Linked DNA regions of Homo sapiens: region 2 is linked to region 1. A link means that fine-mapping ties the variant in region 1 to the expression of a gene that starts in the linked region. Tissue or cell type: lung. Region 1 holds a variant in brackets; the other region holds the start of a gene. All regions are shown on one strand. Distances are between the middles of the regions. Region 1 overlaps RARS1 (arginyl-tRNA synthetase 1). Region 2 holds the start of FBLL1 (fibrillarin like 1).

What was found. PIP is the estimated chance that this variant, and not a neighbour inherited with it, causes the effect. A credible set is the group of variants that fine-mapping cannot tell apart.
Region 2: FBLL1 starts here. The variant in region 1 is the best candidate, but not a certain one, in a credible set for the expression of FBLL1 in lung (GTEx, PIP 0.53).

The regions. Positions count from the first base shown.
Region 1 is chr5:168,506,658-168,509,157 of GRCh38, reverse strand. RARS1 (arginyl-tRNA synthetase 1) reads right to left here. Exons shown (of 15, transcript NM_002887.4): 11 at 2,327-2,436. Among named protein-coding and RNA genes, the nearest start is that of FBLL1, 21 kb to the left of the region's middle. RefSeq lists an enhancer at 1,050-1,219. The variant T/C (reference allele first, on the strand shown) is at 1,302.
Region 2 is chr5:168,527,967-168,530,986 of GRCh38, reverse strand. FBLL1 (fibrillarin like 1) reads right to left here and starts at 1,682. Exons shown (of 1, transcript NM_001355274.2): 1 at 353-1,682. The coding sequence starts at 1,482. The coding sequence ends at 478. RefSeq lists an enhancer at 834-1,375 and a silencer at 2,229-2,523.

The DNA.
Region 1 (2,500 bases):
ATGCTAAAGGAAACCTTCCTTAATCTACTTTGCAATTACTGTTCCTTTCAGTTACTCCCTACCTGCGCCTGCCATGAATTTTTGTTTTTGTGTTGGTCTATTCTGACTAGTGGCTCTACAATGAGGGATGCGTATCTGAATACCGAGAGCTTTAAAAAAAAAACAGATGCCTAATACCCCCTTTAGACCTAATAAGTCAGTAACTCCCACAGTGGGGCTTGCATGTGTATTTTCACAAGCTCCACAGGAAACTGCTCTGCTCTAGATGATAGCCTCTTTCAGAGAGGAGCTCATGTTCCGTGTACCTGCATATACACATTGTGGAGCATCCAACCAACACCATGCACAGCACATCCTCAATAAACAGATGTACAAGGAATAGCAGGAAGATGATGAAATTAAAAAAAAATTATCATTCAAAAAATTAAAACAGAAAATGTCATTTAAAAATAGAATCTGTGAGCATTAAAGAAAACAAACCTTTTTCTTAAGTCCCATCCCCCTCTGTGAGAATTTTTTTTTTTTTTTTTTTTTTTTTGAGACAGAGTCTTGCTCTGTCGCCCACGCTGGAGTGCAGTAGCACAATCTCAGCTCACTGCAAGCTCCGCCTCCCGGGTTTACACCATTCTCCTGCCTCAGCCTCCCGAGTAACTGGGACTACAGGCGCCCACCACCACGCCCAACTAATTTTTGTACTTTTAGTAGAGACGGGGTTTCACCATGTTGGCCAGGCTGGTCTCAAATCCTCACCTCGTGATCCACCTGCCTCGGCCTCCCAAAGTGCTGGGATTACAGGTGTGAGACACTGTGCCTGGCCCAAAATTTAAAAAATAAAAAAAAAAAAGGCGGGTGGGATAGGATACTATAACTACATGCTGCTGAGTGCAGAAAAATTTTAAAAATTATCAAGAATCCTTTAGCCATTATATGACAAGTGAATTAAATGCCATAATAGGAGCACTAGTAATTTTAAGCAAGTGTCAGAATATCATCTAAATGTCCAAAAAACCAACCGTTAAGAAACTAAGATACTATTAAGTAATGATCAACTTACTGGTTTGTTTTAAAAAACTTTATGTCCATAAACACTATAATAAGGACTTAGTGTCTTCTTAGTTATTCTTTTTGTTTTTGAGACACAGTCTCACTCTGTCACCCAGGCTGGAGCCCAGTGATATGATCTCGCCTCACTGTAACTTCCACGTCGATGCTCAAGTAATCCTTAGCTGGGATTACAGGTGCATGCCACTATGCCTGGCTAAGTTTTTTTTTTTTTTTTTGGCAGATATGGGGTTTCACCA[T/C]GTTGCCCAGTTTGGTCTTAAACTCCTAGGCTCACACAATCCTCCAGCATTGGCTTCCTAAAGTGCTGGAATTACAGGCGTGAGAGCCACTTTGCCTAGCCCCTAGTGTCTTTTGATTTCAAAAAAGCGCAGATCCACGGAGAAGAAACGCAATTAGAAAATGTTGTTCCCAACAAGGTCTTTGAGCTCCACATAATCTGTATCTAAGATAATACCTTAACACATCTCATCTGCCTTTTACATGTTCAATTAGGGCTTCTGCGCATTGGCTGGCCAAACATCTTGAGCTACTTCATGTGGTTTTTTAGAAGCATGACCACGTTTGTAGGATGGAAATATTTAGGCTTTGTTACCAAATCTAAGATGCCACAGATTTTTGGTAAGTGATCCTAAGACACCAGTGAATACAGGAGGTTACAACATGAAAAATGCTGTGCCTTTGAATTGAGGAATACTGTATGGAAACACGGTTGTATTTACCTTTTTATTTTATAAATATTGAGAATATAAAAAAATTAGAAAATAGAAAAGCTGAAAGTATGAATATTAAAATACATAGTTCTCAATAAACAATATTTTTGGAGAGAACATAACAAAACCAGTGAATCTTAAAACTTAATTGGAATCTCAATAACTTATACCTTTTGCCTATGTTCAACTTTGAAGGAAAAAACAAAAACATTTATCAAATGCATAAGCTATATTGTTGAATAGTGTCTGAAATCTGAGCAGGTACTGTAATAGATTTTATAATTTAGATTTGTGGGAGAGGAAACCCCTTATATATAATCTATTAGGTCTACAGTCTGGTTTTCACTAAACTTTGTACATACTATCTACCTAAAAGGCTACATTCCCTGGCAGTGATGATATAGATACAAAATCACTCAGCTGGGTTTACACCATTATAGCTTATGTGGACTAAAGGAAACTGTGGACTTTCTTAATTCTAATATGGTATCAAATGAAAAGTAGCCTCTTGGGATCAAGTATATCATTACCATCTTCAGATTTTCCAGACTTACTTGTCTTCCCCTAGCACCACACCAAATCCAGCATGGAAGACTCGAGTTACTTTAGGGTCATACCAACCAATCATTTGAGCAGCAGCAAATATTGTCTGGAAGTGCACAGACTACAACAGAAACGGAAAGTTACTTGCTAGTCTTCTTTAAAGAAAAAAAAAAAGACTTAAGGCT
Region 2 (3,020 bases), 22 kb before region 1:
GATGATTGGTGTGTTTGACTATATTATTGTCCACCAACATTCAGTGTTTTTCCCGAGTCAGGCTGGGTCATGTGACTTGGCCAAATGTGAGCAGAAGTGCCCCATCAGTTCCAAGGGGACATTTAAAAGCTTTTATTAGCAATTCCGCAGCTCTCTTTCCTCTGCCCTAGGGATGGGGGGAGCATGTGTGAAAATGGGGCCCTGGGGAGTTGGAGACCTGAGTGATTAGAATGAGCACAGCTCCCAGGCTACTGCTGGATGGGCCCCTTATACCAGCCGGTTTAGGCCACTGGGATTTGGGGGTTGATTGTTACTGCAGCAAAACCTAGCCTGGCATCACCATACAGATAGGTGCCGTTTCTTTATGCAGTTTAATAGAAAAACAACAAAACAAAACACTCACAAAGAAAACACACAGAAAATAATAGCAAACACAACGCAGCCTTGGGGAGATGGCAGGCGAGCCTGAGCTGGGTGCTATTTGCTGCTGCTCTTGGGAAGAGGTCGGTAGACCCCGACCACCACAGCGTGGTCCCGCTCATAGGGCTCCAGGGTCAGCTGCTCTTGAGGCTTCAAGTTCTCCTGCTGCAACTTCCTCACCTCAGAAGCAAACACAGCCTCGGCGGATGCGGTGGAGTCGATGCAGTTGGCCTTGATGGAGATGAGAAAGTGGCCCCCATTGCGCAGGAAGGTGTGGGCGTTCAGGGCCACGATGCGGGACTGGTCCGGCTGGGCCACGTCGGCGAAGATCACGTCCACCATCCCGATGAGCATGCGGTACTTGAGCGGGTGCCGCGCGTCCTCCAGGACCGGAATGATGTTGGTGCGCTTCTTGGCCACGTTGACCAGATCGCGGCCGGCGCGGTGGGAGAACTCGACGGCGTAGACCAGGCCGTCTGGGCCAATGATGTCGGAGACATGGGAGACGGTGGTGCCCGACGCGGCGCCCAGGTACAGCACCTTGGACTTGGGCTTGATGTGGATCTGGTCCACCCCGCCCAGGATGGCCGCGGCCAGCTTAGAGCGGAACGGGTTCCACGTGCGGTACTCCTGCTTCACGCCGCCCTCGGTCACCGTGACGCGCCTCTCGCCGTACACAGACTGGCCCGGCACCATGTTCAGCGTGACCAGCGCGTCCTCCGCCCCGCGGTAGATGAAGACGCCCTCGTGCCGGTGCGGCTCCACCGACACCACCATGGCGCCCTTCCTGCGGCGGCTCTTGCTCTTGGCCACGCCGCCCCGCCGCTGTCCACCGCCGCCGCGATCCTTGCCGTCGCCGCCGCCGCGCCCCCGGCCCCGGCCGCCCCCGCCGAAGCCGCGCGCCCGCGCCCCGAAGCCGCCCTTGCCCCCCTGGCCGCCGCCGTCGCCCCCGCCGCCCTTGCCCGCGCCGCCGCCGCCGCCTCGGCCCCCGCCCCAGCTGCCCCAGCCGCCGCCCCCGCGGCCGCCCCCACCGCCCCCGCGCGAGCTCGCGGCCGACTTCATGGCACGCACCGGGGCGGGTGCCGTGGGTTACCGGTGCCTCGGGGCGGGTGTCAGGGGGCTCTGGTGGCTCTGGGTGGTCGTCCCGGCGGTTGTCCGCGGGTTTAGCAGCGGAGGCGGGCGGCGGGCGGCGGGCGGCGGGGGCAGGACGGGCTCTACCGCAGTGCCCGCATCCCGGAGCCGCCCCTTGACGCAGCGGCTGTGGCGCGATTGCATCACACCCGTCCCCGCGACCCTGCGGCCCGGAAGCCCCGCTTCCCAGCCCGCGTGCAGACGCAGCCTGCTCCTCTTCGCTCACCCTGCCCCTTCCCCATCTCCCGCCTTCCCAGGGATCCCTGGCACTTCCCTGGGCCACAGGGACGGGGGCGTCTCTGCTGCAGGAGAGGGGGAGGTAAGCATCAGCGTCGGTCCTGGCTGTGCCACCAGTTCTGGGACTATTGATCAGCAAGGAAGTGTTGTTGATTCTTCAGTGTGAATGGGGATACACAGAGAGCCAAAATGTCATGTTCATCCTCGAAGTCTAGTCTATGCTTCAAAGTCACTCTCTAAATCTGCAGCATTTTCTTGAGGAAAGAAAGAAAAAGAGAAAAAGAAAGAAAGAGAGAGAAAGAAAAGAGAGAGAGGGAGAGGAGAAGAAAAGAAAAGAATAATTGGGCAGCACCAAGGGCAGCAACGAGAAGAAAAGAAAAAAAGAAAAGAACAGAAAGAAAATAAAAGAATAACTCGGCACCACCAATGGCCCCAAGGCCGCAACGCAGAGGCTTTAGGGTTTAGTCAGCACCAGGGACAGCGACAGCAGTTGGGGCCCCCGTTTTGGCTACTGCTAGGGGCTTTGGGAACCACACAAGAGCTGGGGAAAGTAGGATAGGTGGTGAAACAACTGGCCAGCCTCCCGTTAGTTGAATTAAGTGTCTACTCGAGAGAGAGAGAGAGAGAGACAACGCGCACCTGAAGATCGGAGCATTTACTGAACACCTGGTATGTGCAGTATGACTTCCGTTCCATCCTGGACCACAGCTCTTCCCGTCTCATACTCATGGACGACAGTGCCAGGTCTGATTTTCCCTGAGGACTGGAGTGTCTCCTTAATGGGGACCAGAGTTTTATACACTGGAATGTGAACAAGGGATCAGTGAGTGAAATGTATGATTCCTGAGGTTGAATGGTTCACATAAAATACTCTACTTAGAGGTTTCCATTCTTGCTATAAGGTGAATATTTTCCAAAATGATGAACTACACTTGGTGTCTGTGAGGGTTAATTTTATGTGTCAACTTTACTGGGCCATGGGATGCCCAGATATTTGGTCAAATAGTATTCTGAGTGTTTCTGTGAGGGTGTTTTTTGATGAGATTAACATTTAAATTGGTATATTGAGTAAAGCTGATTGCCGTCTACGATGTGGCTGGGCCTCATCTAATCAGTTGAAGGCAGAAATAAAGCAAAATGCTGACCTTCCCCACGGAAGAGAGAATTCTCCTGCCCAAGGGCCTTTCAACTGGCACATCAGCTCTTTCTGCCTGACAACCTTTGGACTGGGA